Regions from separate parts of the Homo sapiens genome. Here region 1 is linked to region 2. Evidence: fine-mapped expression QTL. Tissue or cell type: nucleus accumbens. Region 2 holds a variant in brackets; the other region holds the start of a gene. All regions are shown on one strand. Distances are between the middles of the regions.

Region 1 (8,148 bases), 47 kb before region 2:
CAAAGCTGCTAAGCTTGTTTGCTTCTCAGCTCTCCAATGGAACTCTGACATGAGCATGGAACCCCAGCCAATCATCCTCCCAAGCTGTCACAATACTGTACTTAGAAGCCAAGGTAATGAGGCCCTGTTCTGATTGCTGACACATTTGTCATCAACTGTCATGCATGCACAGGCAACTGCAGGCCTGGGGAACTGCGATGCAAAGGTATGGAGGAGAGAGAATAGGCTCAGTTCAGGAAATTGAAATTAATTCAATGTGGCCAGCATGTAGAGGTCTGATTTTAGTTGCAGCAAGAACCTAGGGAGGTGAGCAGGAGTTGCATCACAAAAAGCATTTATGTGTCATACTCAGGAAGGTGGACTTATATCTTGAATGCTTTTATAAGAAAACCTTTAAAATTATATGTATCTTTTACAAAATCATAATTTCTTATTTAAAAATGATACACTTCAATGTAGAACTTTTACACAGAAATGTGCAAAGGAAATCATTCTTAATTTAACCACCTAAAGATAACTATTTTAAACATTTTGGCATATATTTTTCAACCTTTTTTTCTATGTACATAACCAGGAATGCATACTACAAAGAAAACAAGGCAGGCACAGTGGTGTGAGCCTGTAGTAGTCCCAGTTAGTCTGGAGGCTGAGGTGGCAGGATTGCTTGAGTCTGGTGACAGACCAGGAGCACCGTCATCTCGGACAAACACCGCCACTTTAAGTTCCAGCTCCCTTTCTAGCCTCATGCATTTCAAGGAAATCACTTCTCTTCTAACTATAAGCAGCCAGAAAGAGCAGACAGTAAAACACAGATAAGACAGCTCAGGCACAAAGGGAGGTGGGGGGAAATTCTCTTGGGTAACTGCCAAACTTCACCCTCATACAATGGGCCCCAGTAAAACAGTGGGCCTTAGTAAGTACATTCCTTTCCCTTCAGGTGCACTAAGATAGGGAAGCTAAAAGCAGACTCGGGGGTATGCCTGCAGCTGCAAAAAGATGTATGGGAACAGACACACAACTCTCCCTCCCAGATAAGCACAACAGACACAGAAGCAGTCCAAGCCTCTGATAAACTCTCCCACCCTAAATCCTTAAAAACTCTTATTAGTCCGTAAGAGAGTGTGCCTCTAACCTAACTGGCCAGAAGCCCCTTTCAGGTTTGTTTTCTCTAAAATAAACTTGTCCTTGACTTCTAAGCCACCTTTCCTGTTTCTTTCTTCTTTAATTCTTACATCTGGGAGTTTAAGGCCAGCCTGGGTAACATAGTGAGATCTTGTCTCTTAAAAAAAAATTACAGGCCGGGTGTGGTGGCTCACGCCTGTAATCCCAGCACTTCAGGAGGCCGAGGTGGGCAGATCACAAGGTCAGGATTTCCAAACCAGCCTGGCCAACGTGGTGAAACCCCATCTCTACTAAAAAAAAATACAAAAATTAGCCGGGCATGGTGGTGTGTGCCTGTAATCCCAGCTACTTGGGAGGCGGAGGCAGGAGAATTGCTTGAACCCGGGAGGCAGAGGTTGCAGTGAGCCAAGATTGCACCACTGCACTCTAGCCTGGGGGACAGAACAAGACTCCATTTAAAAAAACAAACAAACAACAAAAGTATCCATTCCTCTGAGTCAATAAAAGATGTATGTTAAAAAAAAAAAAAAGCCACGTACTATATATACTTATTGCATCATAACTTGCCTTTTCATAAAGACTTCAATCAGAATATAAATGAAGGGCTGCACAGGATCCTCTTATAAAGCTCTATCATAGGTTATTTAACTCCTAATTGTTGGGCATTTAGGTTGTTTTAGATGTTTCTGCTACTCTAAATAATACTCTATGAATAGTTCTGTACACTATTTTTTTTTAAGAGATGGGGTCTCACTATGTTGCCCAGGCTGGAGGGCAGTGGCTATTCACAGGTGCAATCATACAGCACTGCCCTCTTGAACTCCTGGGCTCAAGTAATCCTCCTGCCTCAGCCCCCTGAGTATCTGGGACTACAGGCGCATACCACTTCCCCCAGCTTATACTAATTTTTATATGTGTATTTAATTATGTACTTAAATCTAAAAGTGGATTATACCAAATCTACAAAAATAAGATTTTTAAACATTTTTGATGCCGATTACTTTATTAAAGTGTATATTCCCAGTATCCCTACCTAAGAATGCCTCCTTCTTAGCTCTTTTATCCACACTGGATGTTTTATACTTTTAAAATGTTTACATCTTAGTTTGTTAATTTGATTTTTTTATTTGTTTACTAGTGAGATTGAACTTTTTTCATGTATTTACTGGTAATTTGTATTTCTTTTTTGGGGTGAAATTCCCCATTCATGTCCTTTGCTAATTTTTTTTTTTTGGTCAACTTGCCTTTTCATATTGTTTGTGTGTTTACTTTAATAAAATTTAAATATTTATGTAAAAAGCATTTACGTAGCCAAGTCTACCAATCTTTTCCTTTATGGTTGTTTCCTTTGCTGTTTTGCTTCTTAGAAAGCTCCTCCCATTTTGAGATCAATTTATTAAAAAAAAAAAAGAGCGCCCTCTTCTGCTAGCTCTTTTATGGTTTTATTACTTTGGGATTTTGTTTTCACAATTAGTGTGAGATAGAGTTCTGCTTCTCTCTGCCCATAGTGCAGCTAATCAGTTAAGAACACAATTTATTGAATAATCCATCCACTGATTCAGATGCTACCCTTATCATAATTGTCCCTTTCATCTTCCTTGGATTTCATCTACTGAGGGTTATAGGAATAGGGGCATGTGGGAGAGTGAATAAGCACTACAGAAATAGATAGTGCTACCAAAGGTGTGAAAATTTGGACCAGGCAGTGGGAAAGCAGAGAAAGAATTGTGCCTATGACAAAGATTATTTGCTTGGCCAAACTCTAGTACGGCTTCTGAATCTTCTGCTAGGTCCATCTGTGCACTTCTTTGTAAAAATCCAGTTTTAGCAAAGAACCCCCTTTCCTCCATATCTAATCAGTTTTCTCACCCTGCACCATCCCCCAGGTGATGTTATGTCTTCAGAAGTCCTGTTAGGTCAGTTTCACCAAATGCCCCTTACCTCTGATGCTTCCTCTTAGTAATTTTCCATCCACTGAACTCCATACTGCTGGTTGGCTATAAATTCCCTCTTGCCCACGCTGTATTCGGAGTTGAGCCCAGTCCCTCTTCCCCACTGCAAGACCCAGTTGCAGTGGTCCCTATGCCAATTGAGACAGTCCTCAATAGTCTTCGTTCGGTGCTTTAACAAGTATCATTGAATAATTTTGTCTTTAACACTTCTTCACATTATGGTCACAGCTATATATTGTTAGCTTAGTAGTGGACTAACTGAACATGTAATTTCCAAGCTATAAGTTGCTCATCAAAATATATAAGTGAAAAAAATTAAAACCAGGGAAGGAAAGCAAGACAATCCTCCCCAAATAACGTTAAGTCTATGCGTCTAATTCCACATCATCGATGAGCCATCTGTCACATGGACTACTGTCCCTCAAACAGCACTCAGGTATGAGACTTGAGACGAAGTTCAGACCAAGGCCGTGTCTTCGAGGATATTTCGCTTAGAGAAAACGAAACTACTTTTAAATGTAGTGCTTATGACTAGTGCGGTAACCACTACACAAACAGCATTCTCCTGGCATTTTTATGCTAACATAAGCCTCAGCAGCGAAGACAATTGCTACCGGGGGAAATAACCTTCAATTGTGTTTTTAGCAACTGATTCCTCTTTTTTGCTGTTGTAAAGGGCCGTTAAACACGGAAACAGGAGCCTGGCGACGTTAGTCCGCAACAGAAAGTTATTTTGTACTTTCACAGTGGGTTTGCCTACTTGGTGAGATAAAAGTGGGGCAAGACCGGGCCTCAAGCCAGGACTTCCTGGGGGCTCCCGGGAGCACCGCAGGCTGCGCGTTCCCCGCGCGCCGGCAGGAGGCGCGCGCTGCCTGGAAACGCCCCAGCGCCGCCCGCGCCCAGAGACCCGCCGCTGTGACGCAGCGAGAGCCCGGGAGGAGGCGCGGGAACGCGCGTTGGGGGTCAGGTGCCGGAAGAGGAAACCTCTCGCTGGGGCTAGGAGTTCGGCGGGGCGCGCGCCGGCGGCTGCGGAGCTGGCAGGTGCGAAGCGTCTGCACCTGGCGGGCGATGGCGCCCGATGCGGGCGCCCCGGGATAGCGTGGGCGAGGCTGCGGGGCCCCGGCGCGCACGCCCGCACCTCTCCCCAGCCCTGGCGTGGGCCCAGCCCGGCCCAGGCAGCAATGGGGTTCCTGCAGCTGCTGGTCGTAGCGGTGCTGGCATCCGAACACCGGGTGGCTGGTGCAGCCGAGGTCTTCGGGAATTCCAGCGAGGGTAAGGTCGGGGCGCCTGGCTTCTGCAACCCAAAGTTGCTTTTGCATTTCTTGCGAGGTCAAAATCCGCCAGGGGTCTGTCAGCCTAGCAGGGAGATGGTGCTGGGGGCGTTGGTACACGCTGGGTGGTGAGTCCAGAACCGGCACGAATGGTGTTTCCTGCAGCGGAAACACTCATGGCTAAGGAGGTCTTACTATTAACCTCCTCATTTAGCGGAGGAAATGGGAAGAGATAAATAATTCTCTTTTTTTAACACAGTATTATCTCCCTTAGGGAGCAGCCATGTTTGTGGCTTTAATTCAACTTACTAAAGCGCCTCTTTGCTGCCCAGTGGACTGTCTGAGCTTCTGGACAGCAAGACTTGGGGTGGAACTAGCGGCTTAATGACTGATGGCTCTCAAGCTGCATGGAATTTTTACACCCCCAAATCTAGAGGCTTTTCAAACTGGTTATGTTCTACAGAGTTTGAGAGGGAAAATGAACCCATAATGAGGCTTTATTTTTAAAGAGCCTTTACCATCTAATTTATTAATACCATCTGGAGACAGGAAAACATTCCATACTCACAATGAGAAATAAAGGACTTTCTGAATTACAGATACATAGACATACAGATAGAATGTGTATACCCTCAATTCTACAAGTTCAGCCACAAATGAAAAATAAACACAGAAACACAAAAGCTTGCCAGTCCAGGTATCAGAGTTGTTCTCCTTACTTGAGGGCAAGAAATTTCTAATCGATTTGACCTTAAAAAAGACAAATGGACAAAAACTGTGTTCTCTGTTGTCTCATATCCAACAGGAAATAGATCTCTATGAGATATTAATTCGTTTACAGAGATCACAAAATTCCCAATCATTGCAGCTACCAACAGGAAATAACTTGTCATCCATAAATGAACTGTAAAAAATAACAATTTAATAGAGAGTAAAACTAAAATGAGAAAAACAAGAATCAACGAAGTTCTATTGCCACTTCAAATTCACCTGTGGGAGCCAAGAAGCAACATGCCCGGGCTTGGCTCCCTATGAGTACACCATTTTTGATGATTTCAGGTGACTTTTTTTTTTTTTTTTTTTGACGGAGTCTCGCTCTGTCGCCTAGGCTGGAGTGCAGTGGCATGATCTTGGCTGACTGCAACCTCCGACACCCGGGTTCAAGCAATTCTCCTGCCTCAGCCTCCAGAGTAGCTGGGATTACAGGCGCCCGCCACCACACCCAGCTAGTTTTTGTATTTTTAGTACAGGCGGGGTTTCACCATGTTGTTCAGGCTGGTCTCGAACTCCTGACCTCGTGATCTGCCCGCCTTGGCCTCCCAGAGTGCTGGGATTACAGGCATGAGCCACCGCGCCCGGCCGATTTCAGGTAATTCTTGTTCATCTCAGTGAGAACTCAGAATGGGATGTTAGATTGTAAGTCTTGTGCTTGGTGAATGGGTTTGGGCAACAGCTCATGGTTTGTTAATATAAAATGTAAAAGGCACTAGTTGTGCCAGGCAGATCATCATGTGCTTTTCCATGAAACTAAGCACATTCTGTTTTGTTTTGAGGTTAATAGACTAGTTGCAGTTCTGAAACATAATATTTTCTGAATAATGTGATTGTGTTGCTATGCACTTATCTTTGAAAAGCCCTTGTGCAAACTGAATTCTAGGATCTTTGTATATAGGACTGAGGCCAAAGCTGAAAAGGGCAACTTTTTTTTTTGCAGAAAAACCTTGCTTATAATAGGGCACTAACATTCACTCTGTATAGTGTGTGCCAGGTGCTTTCCACGTGCAGTGTTATTTAATCCCCACCACCCTACAATGTAATGATCTTCCTCCCTTGTCAGAGGAACAAATGAACAGCTGCTAGGGTTACAGATAGGACTTGAACCCAGGTGAGTCTCCCTGCAAATTTCATAGTCCTTCCACTTCCGTAAAGCTGTCTTCCAATAAGAATATCTTACATGGCATGGTGCTTTGTACTTAATCCTTCTGTGAATCCTCATTCTTCAAAATAGCCTTATGATGGAGGTAGAAGAGATGCTATCTCTATTTTAACAGGTGAAGAATTTGAGATATTAGAGTTTTTAGTTGATCGAGGCCAGCCCCTGAGTCAGGAGAGCAGGCGTCCAGAACTTTTTCTTTCTACTTGGTGTTAGTATTTAATACCTAGAAATTTTTATACAAAAGTTAAAAAATATGAATAAATTGAGAAATTAATTTTTTTCAGACACTGCTTTTTGCCTCTTTGCTATGATTATAGCACTGATATTCCTCAATGTTATTCTTTTTGCCTTGCATTGGTATTGTCATTCTGTGCAGAAGAGGGACAATGTGGGGACTTAACTGCTGAGTGATAATAAAAGCTGATATTCTCCACATCTATCAGCTAAAAATCAGTATAGAAAGGTAGAAGGACATAGTTCAGGACTTGCATAATCCTCCTAGAAAATGGCTGGATTGATGTTTGATGATGATAATTCTGATAACCATACAAACTGAAGAAATTGAGCATCTGCTGTAATTTAGGAGGATTTACCCATCTTTGGCAGGATGAGCTAACTTGCATGACTTCTGTAGTGGCCTGAATGCTAAATAAATCTTGGAACGTGGCAGATGGAGTTCCTAGAATGTCTGAGGAGGGTGCTTTCTGTGACCAGTAGGCACATGAGATGGATCATACTTTTAAGCAGTTTTCCCTTCTCTTGGAGTCCCAGTTCACTGCTGCCTTTAACATCTTTCATTTGTTTAGATTCATATCCAGTAACTCCCGTGGAATTTCATAGTAATTGGACTTGAGCACAGCATCATTTGGGCCTTTCAGTCTTCTTGCTATTGATGATGCTTTACCAAGGTAGCAGGCTGTTCATGGTTAGTTGCAAGTGCTGTCTTTCTCTAAAAAGTGTGTGAAGCTAATATGTTCATTTTTGTGTTCCCTTTCAACCTTTAGGGCTATTGAACATTTGTAAGAAGATAACAATGAGAAATTGGGAGGGGCGGTTGACTGCTGACCAACTCAAGTAGCTGAACCATTTTTGTTTTTAATGTGAAGAGAATTATGAAGACTAGGCTATGATGGATTTCTCTTAGAATTTGGTTGTTGTGTTGAAACACAAACAGTAGAAGTAAATTTTAGTAAAATAGTAAAAAGGAAGAGTTGGAAATTTTTATGGTTGCCAGATTAGGATCTGATTCGGAAAGAAAAAGGAAAGTATTAGGATTGGGCAGCTCTTTTTAAAGTGGAATTATTGGAAAGAAAAAGTGATTCTGGGTAAGAATGGAAGATGGGTGTGAAAAATTGTTTCAAGTCCCTACTATAGGTCAGATGGCAAAAAAAGCCATTTCTTTTTAGAGGAAAGCTAATGTAAGTGCCCCAACTTGATGTTAGCCATTTGCTTTGTAATATCTTTTGATGTGCTGTCTTTTTTCCTCCTACTCTGCAAGTCATAAGATATAATTATGCCTCATAAAATGCTTCTAATAAATCCTTTTCCATATGCCTTAGAGGTGAAGTTAAATTCCTGTTAGCTTCTTCAGGATATTTTTTGAGTATGTGTCTTCTTTTGCTAAATCTGTTTTTATGAGCAGAAATTAAATGAGTTTCTACCAGACTGAGCTGTTTAAGTTGTCTTGACTTTCAGTATCTTTTGTTGTCACTCTTCGGAAGTCTCTTTCTCAACGTAATGCTTATGATGTGCCTGGAATTTCTGTGAATGCCCTGTACATGTTAGTTCCTTTCTTCCCACTAATTTTTTCGTAGGGCTGCTCTGAGTGCCTGATTGTCTTTCTTTCTTTCTTTTCTTTCAATAAGGA
Region 2 (7,303 bases):
TTACACTCATCATGATACAGATGTAAAACCAGGTATTTTCTATTTTCTTCTGCTAACGAATTGATAGGATGTTTCTAATATAAGTATTGCTACGATCGTTCTTTTTGAAAATTATTAATTTTACACAGTGAAAGCATGTTTTTCCAAGTTAATTATCTGAAGTAATGGACCATTTATTTCAAATGATTGGTACATAATATTTAACATTTCCAATATCCATATCTCCACAATAGAAACTTGGTCCGAAGTTCACTCCTAGGTGATGTACTTAATACCTGTTAGTAACATTCATTCAAACCCAGAGTTCTTGGTTCTAATTTCCTGAGAACAGGGCCTTGCCCTAGGGCACAGCCCCTCATTGCATCCCAGCCCTTGTTGGGAGGGCAGCTACCTATGGTTTGCTGATAGACTAAACTGTGCCCCCCAAACAAATTTATATGTTGAAGCCCTAACACCCGGTACCTCAGAATGTGACCTTATTTGGAGACGGGGCCTTTAAAGAGGTTTCAAATTAAATTGAGACTATTAGGGTGGGTCCTAATCCAGTCTGACCAGTGTCTTTGTAAGAAGGGGAGATTAGGACACAGAAACACCAGGTGCATGTGCTCACAGGGGAAAGACCGTGTGAAGAGCAGTAAGAGGGGAGCATCTGCAAGCAGAGGAAACCATCCCTGCTGCACCTTGATCATGGACTTCAGCCTCCAGAACTGTGAGAAATTATTTCTGTTGTTTAAGCCATTCAGTCAGTGGTATTCTGTTATGTCAAAAGAATACACATTACCCTGACTGTTGATTGAAATGCCTCTTGGCAATTTGGCCATTGTATTTGCAAGGACCACTCTTTATGAAATTGACACAAAGAGGGGCTTAAGTTAGTGGGAACTCTGGACTTACCCAGGGACTACCATGTAATCATTACACTGGAGAGGTTGGCAGGTCTGGATCAAGCTTAAGATTTTTTAAAAAATTGTTATACAGGAGTGGCGTGGTGGCTCACGCCTGTAATCCCAGCACTTTGAGAGGCCAAGGTGGGCAGATCACTTGAAGTCAGGAGTTCAAGACCAGCCTGGCCAACATGGTGAAACCCCGTCTCTACTAAAAAATAAAAATAACGAGCCGGGCATGATGGCACATACCTGTCAGCTACTTGGGAGGCTGAGGAGGAAGAATCACTTGAACCCGGGGGGCGGAGGCTGCAGTGAACTGAGATCGCACTATTGCACTCCAGCCTAGGCGACAAAGCAAGACACTGTCTCAAAAAAATAAAAATTATATATATATGATAGTGAGGCTTTGACTTAGATCTCACATTCACTCATTAAATATTTGTTGAGTTCCTGGCCAGGCATTGCCTTGAGCACTAGGAAGATGGAAAACACAGGCATGGTCTTTGCTGTCTGGGACTGGAGTGTGAGACAGATACTAAAATAGTTACACAAGATGTGTAATATGCAATGAAAATGTATAATGGGATAGGGCTAGAAAGTGGGATGCCAAGGAAGGAGTCCTTGAGGAAGTGACATTCCAGCTGAAACTTGGAGGTTGAGTAGGAGTAGCCAAAACCAAGTATGTCATGTGTAGGAAGGGGAGTATTATTAACAGAAGCCTCAAGGCCTCCCCTTCTCATTGTAGAGAGCTGTAAAACCAACACATGCCAATTGTAACCTTGGGTCTGCAACCTAAGTTTAACTCTTAAAACCAAGTTTTGTTAAATCTCACACTGACAATGCTGATAACAAGCTTATCTTCCCAGGTACAGAATAAGGATGAGACAAAATCAACCACTCTTCTGCCTACCCTGAAACAGATGAATAACTGAGTCTTTACTCCCTTTTTTCAGTTTATCTTATATGAAACATAGATTTACTGAGCGTTAATCAGAGCCTCACAAGAATGTAATCATTTGCCTCACTGCCTAACCCCTCTCCCTTTTCCCTCCTCACTCTCTCCCCTAAATAATGAGTTTCCAAAACCCTCTTTAGAAAGCTCAGGTCACAGATGCTCATGTGGCTTGCGTTTTTTCTCTGGCATGTCTTTAAACTTTGGCCCAATAAACCTCTACTGATTTAAGACACTTGCCTCAGTCACTTTTTTTGGTTAACAGGTTTTCTGATTCACAAGAAACTTATAATGACCTCTGGAAAGACAGAGGTTGTAGGAAGAGGTTTACTCTGAATTGTAAATTTTTTAGTATGCTAAGATTTTTAACAGTGTACATTTATTTTTTCATTTAAAAAATAACAAAACATGACCTAACAAACTTCTGGGAATTTGCACGCTAGAAATTACAATAAATAAAGTTATGTATATGGATGTTTACTGCATTATTTTGTATTAAACTTTGCAAACTATCCATCAGTTGGGGGAACTGATGAATAAATTACAACTCCATAATGGTAGCTACAAAAATGCTTGATTTACAGGCATCAGAAACTGACTGGCTAATGCAAACAGTACAATTAGCTGGAAGAATACTGATGCTGTTTGCTTCAGGACATTTCCCCGTATGCATCTGATTTTTACATATTTGTAATTATATGGGTAATTTATGTTAAGCTTTTTAATGCATATTTAGGTACTTTTTTCTTCTTGTTGCTAGCATCTTCAAGCCATAGACTGTAATCAACTGTATTGAGTGAATATTGACATTTAACTATTCCCCTACTGTAGGATATTTAGGTTGAATCCAATTTGTATACTTTAACACTACCATAATGTAGCTTTGACCAGGGGTAGCAGTGGAGGAGAGAAATGGTAGGATTCTGATTTATTTGGAAGGAAGAGCCAACAACAGGATTTGCTGATGAATAGGATGCACGATATGAGAAAGTGGAGTCAAAGTTGCCACCAAGGTTTTTGGCCTTAGCAACTGCAAGGATGGAGTTGTCATCAAGCAGGATGGGAAAGAGTATGGAGGCGTTCTGGGAGGTTTGGAGTTTGGCTTTGGACATCTTAAGCATAAAATTTCTCTTTGACAGTCACAGCTGCATGAATCCGGGGTGAGAGGTCTATGCTGGAACTGTGAATTTAGGAGCCATCAAGCATAGAGGTGGTATTTAGTCATGAGACTGGGTGAGATCACCAGTGAGTAGAGACACTGCACAGAATAGGTATAAGGACTAAGCCCAGTGGCTCTCTAATGTTAAGAGGTCAGCGAGAAGAAACAAAGGAGACTGAGGAGCAGCCAGAGAGGTTAAAGGAAAAAGTGTCTCCTCAAATTCCAATTAGAAATTATCATCTTCATCAGTATTTTACTAAAAAATGTTCTCCTATTTCACTCTGACAATGAAAAAAGGTAGTGACCACCAAAATTATGGATCTACGATTGTCCATTTTTCATTGAAGCAATTTTTTTTTTTTTTTTGAGATGGAGTTTCACTATTATTGCCCAGGCTGGAGTGCAATGGTGAGATCTCGGCTCACTGCAACCTCTGCTTCCCAGGTTCAAGCGATTCTCCTGCCTC[G/A]GCCTCCCAAGTAGCTGAGATTACAGGCACCCACCACCATCCCTGGCTAACTTTTTGTATTTTTAGTAGAGACAGGGTTTACCATGTTGGCTAGGCTGGTCTTGAACTCCTGACCTCAACTGATCCACCTGTTTCGGCCTCCCAAAGTGCTGGGATTACAGGGAAGCAATTTATTTCTATAAAATTTTAGAAGTCACCTTGATATTAAAGAATATAAAATTAGAGCAGAAATTGTGAGGTTATAAATTGGTTTTTAAGAACTTTCTTATATAAAATAAAAATATAGTTGATAGATGAAAAACAATAGATGTCTTAGTTTCCTAGGGTTACTCTAACAAATTACCACAGGCTGGGTGAATGAAAACAACAGAAATTTATTTCCTCACAGTTCTGGAGGCCAGAAGTCTGAAATCAAGCAGGCTTGGTCCTTTCTGGAGCCCGTGAAGAACCCATTCCATGCCTCTCTTGCAGCTTCTGGTGGTGGCTAGCAGTCCTTGCGTAACTCATTGCCTCTGTCCTCATGCTGCTATATCTGTGTTTCATATCTCCTCCTCTCTTATTGTAACGACACTAGTCACTGGGTTTGGAGCCCACCCAAAATCCAGGGTAATTATATCCTGAGATCCCCTAATCACATCTGTAAAGACTATTTCCAAATATGGTCACCTTCCCAGGTGTATCAAGTTAGGACTTAGACTTACCTTCTAGGGGACATGATTCAACCTACTACAAATGGTAAGAAGTTCTGCAGGATCCACACTAAGAAGCTGCTAATTCCTAAGGAATACAGATAGAGGTCACTGCTAAGTAGTTTTGCACTAAGAAGAGACAAAAAACCTTAAAATTAAACCATATATAAGAATAAGGGTAAGCACTTTTCAAATTAAATTGGAGACCATACCAATTTTAATCATTCATCTTTAATAATAAAATAGGTTCCTATGCAGTACATACCTCAAACATAAACTTAAGGTTCTGTTTAACAACAACCAAAAAAAAAAAAAAAATAGGATGGAAATGTGTCACTAAATAACAAAGTAAATGTCTTTAAACATGAAGACCTTAAATTCATATCCAAGCAAAAAGACGAAGAATAAGTTAACCCAACTTGTTTACAAAAATAATTATTTATCAAGTAAGCTTTTATAGTAGAGCTGCCTCAATGAACTGCCTCAGACTTAATCTCAATGGTGTAGCTTGAAATAGATTTCCTTTATTAGCAGGGATAAGAAGTATCTGAATGAATGTGTCATTAAATTAAGGAATACTTTCCCAAAAACAATAAAAAGTTTAAAAATAAAAACTGTCATTTATTTATAAAATATCAAATAAGGCCTCTGACTGAAAAAAAGAAATCTATATAATGTTTGGGCCATTAGCCCTTTTCTATTCAATCAGTCTCATCCACCCCATTCACCCCAAACTTAAGATAAAAAAATTCTCAAGTGTAGTTTTGAATTTTACCAATATATGAAATTATACATAAAATTACCATATAAAGTAATATTTAACAAATTATATACTCAAAGTATAATTTTCCATTTGTCTTAATTTTAATACGTATTCAACATAAATGAGTACAATATATTTAACCATGTTTGACACTCTTCTTTTATCCCTTTTTAATACAATCACCACAACATAAGAAAATTTAGGTTTCAACTGATGTTAAAGCACATTTCTGTATCTGGTGGTTTTTAAAAAAATTACATATTATATATTTGACATTTTAAAAGACAACAGAAACAAATCCACAGATTACTCCACCTTTACCCCCACTTTCAGCTGAAAGGTTTTAAGAAAAATCTTGCAGGTTATGAGGACCAGATGGAGCTTAAAAACAGATCCGGAACTTTTTTTTTGAAATTGTATTTACTTTTTTTTTTTGTATCTCAAGAATACTTAAAGGAAAAAAAAAAGGGTTCTATGAGCCAGAGGAATTCCCAATTCACTTTGAAATTACCATACCTATCTTGCCATATCAAACATTTCAATTCTGTTAACTAAATGAACTACATAATATCCTTAAAAATCAGCCAGAGAAGAGAAAAACAAATCTCGTCTTCATTATTGACTTTGAACCAAAACTTATTCTTTCAAAGGAGTAGTTTAACCTACTAAATATGTCTATTATAAGATCTTCTTTCTTAGAAAGTAGTATTCCTTCTTTTTCATTCCTGAAATGGTATTTCTTACACTTAAACAAGTTATGGACAATTGTTAGCTAAGTATCAGTTATGATAAATTGCTAAAATTAAATTATCTGTTTAAGGTACATATAACACATTCCTATAGCCTTTAAAACTGTATTTTCTTTCACAAAAATTTAAATAAATGTGAAAGTAGGCAATCACTAGAAGTCTCATGGTACATAAACTTTGCATCAACTTTGACGCCAAATAAGGATGAAATTTAGCGTACAAATCCTCCGTTCACAAAACAGTGGCAAAAATTTATATTTTTAAATTGGTATAATTTTATGCATTCTCAAACATTTACTGGGAATATTCAAGTTTACCTAATTAATCACCCAGAAAGCCAGCAGTACTGCCAAAAGCTCTTGGTATATTCAGTAGTCACTGTGAAAACTTTTCATTTCTTTACCATTTGGCAATGGCTCAGTTTCTATTTTCCAATTATGTTTTGGAATAAAGTCTATGACCATTAACTATGCATTTTTTGTTGCTATCTCATAGCCCGTGCACTGTACATATTTACAGAGAAAAAAATAAAGGATTGAATTTTCTGTCCATTCATTCATTCACTTATTTGACCATTTGGAGCCATGTAAGAAGCTCACAGACTCAGAAACTCTTCAGCTCTTCCTCAGACTCAAATCACTGTTGGTCACTAATGCTGACAAAGAAGTACTTTCCGACGCATCATCTTTCCTTAGGTTCAAAAATGATTCTCGAGTTATTTGAAGGATCTCTCTCAAGCCTTTGTTTTCTTGCTAAAAGGCAAGCAAAAACAAAGATGCAGTCACTATCTACAAGGTAGCTACAACATCACAAACATATGTTAGGAAAAACTGAACATATGAAGGTATAACAAACAAGCAAGGTCTGTAATTGGCATTAATCTACTCAATGATATATGCAGTTGGCAACTTGAATCTAAAGAACACTTATGCAGCTAGGAATCGTGTTCAACATCTTCCACCACTGCAAAGCCTTCTTACTTAAGCAGCTATAATTGTAAACAGAAGCTCAGAAATTGCCTTATTTTACAATCACATTAGAGATGAAGAAAATAACATCTAGATTTATTTTTATATAAACTCGTAAAGCCAGTGAATAGGCTAGAATCTCCTAGTAATTTTTAGTATTTTTATTACTTTCCATGATAGCATGGAATGTAGGACAAGTTTAGCTCATTGGCATTTGAGAGCAGCAGGGTAGGGGTAGCTGATGATATTTTTCAAGAAGGAAAGTAAGTGACCAAATCTGGCACTGGTAAATAACTTTGCTTTCTGGCCTCCTTTTGGTTAGTTACTGTAAAAAAATTTGTAGACATTTAACAATAACCTTTCATAATTTGTTCTCTATCACTTTATCTTCAGTCTCACTTTCTAAATTTTAGTAGTCTAAAGCAGGTTCCCCGCCGTGATTTCAAAATGAAGCTCTTAAGGCATAAAAGTCTATTGTACTGATTTCAGTTATTCAGAGACTGGTACTTTCACTGTCATAAAATAAAGGACAGATGACAAAGGTTTTTAGAATCCCCAGAAAAATAAGAGTGCCCCTAAATATTTGTGGATTAAAAAAAATTTCCCTGTATCACTATGATCTCTAATAGAATAAACAAAATTTTAAAAATGACTCAATTGAAGAAGTACA

The links. PIP is the estimated chance that this variant, and not a neighbour inherited with it, causes the effect.
Region 1: it holds the start of TM7SF3, and the variant in region 2 is fine-mapped to the expression of TM7SF3 in nucleus accumbens (GTEx, PIP above 0.99).

What each region holds. Positions count from the first base shown.
Region 1 is chr12:27,010,276-27,018,423 of GRCh38, reverse strand. It overlaps TM7SF3 (transmembrane 7 superfamily member 3), which reads left to right and starts at 4,040. Exons shown (of 12, transcript NM_016551.3): 1 at 4,040-4,346. The coding sequence starts at 4,256. RefSeq lists a silencer at 3,848-4,347.
Region 2 is chr12:26,963,710-26,971,012 of GRCh38, reverse strand. It overlaps FGFR1OP2 (FGFR1 oncogene partner 2), which reads right to left. Exons shown (of 7, transcript NM_015633.3): 7 at 4,365-6,417. The coding sequence ends at 6,280. Among named protein-coding and RNA genes, the nearest start is that of FGFR1OP2, 29 kb to the right of the region's middle. The variant G/A (reference allele first, on the strand shown) is at 3,465.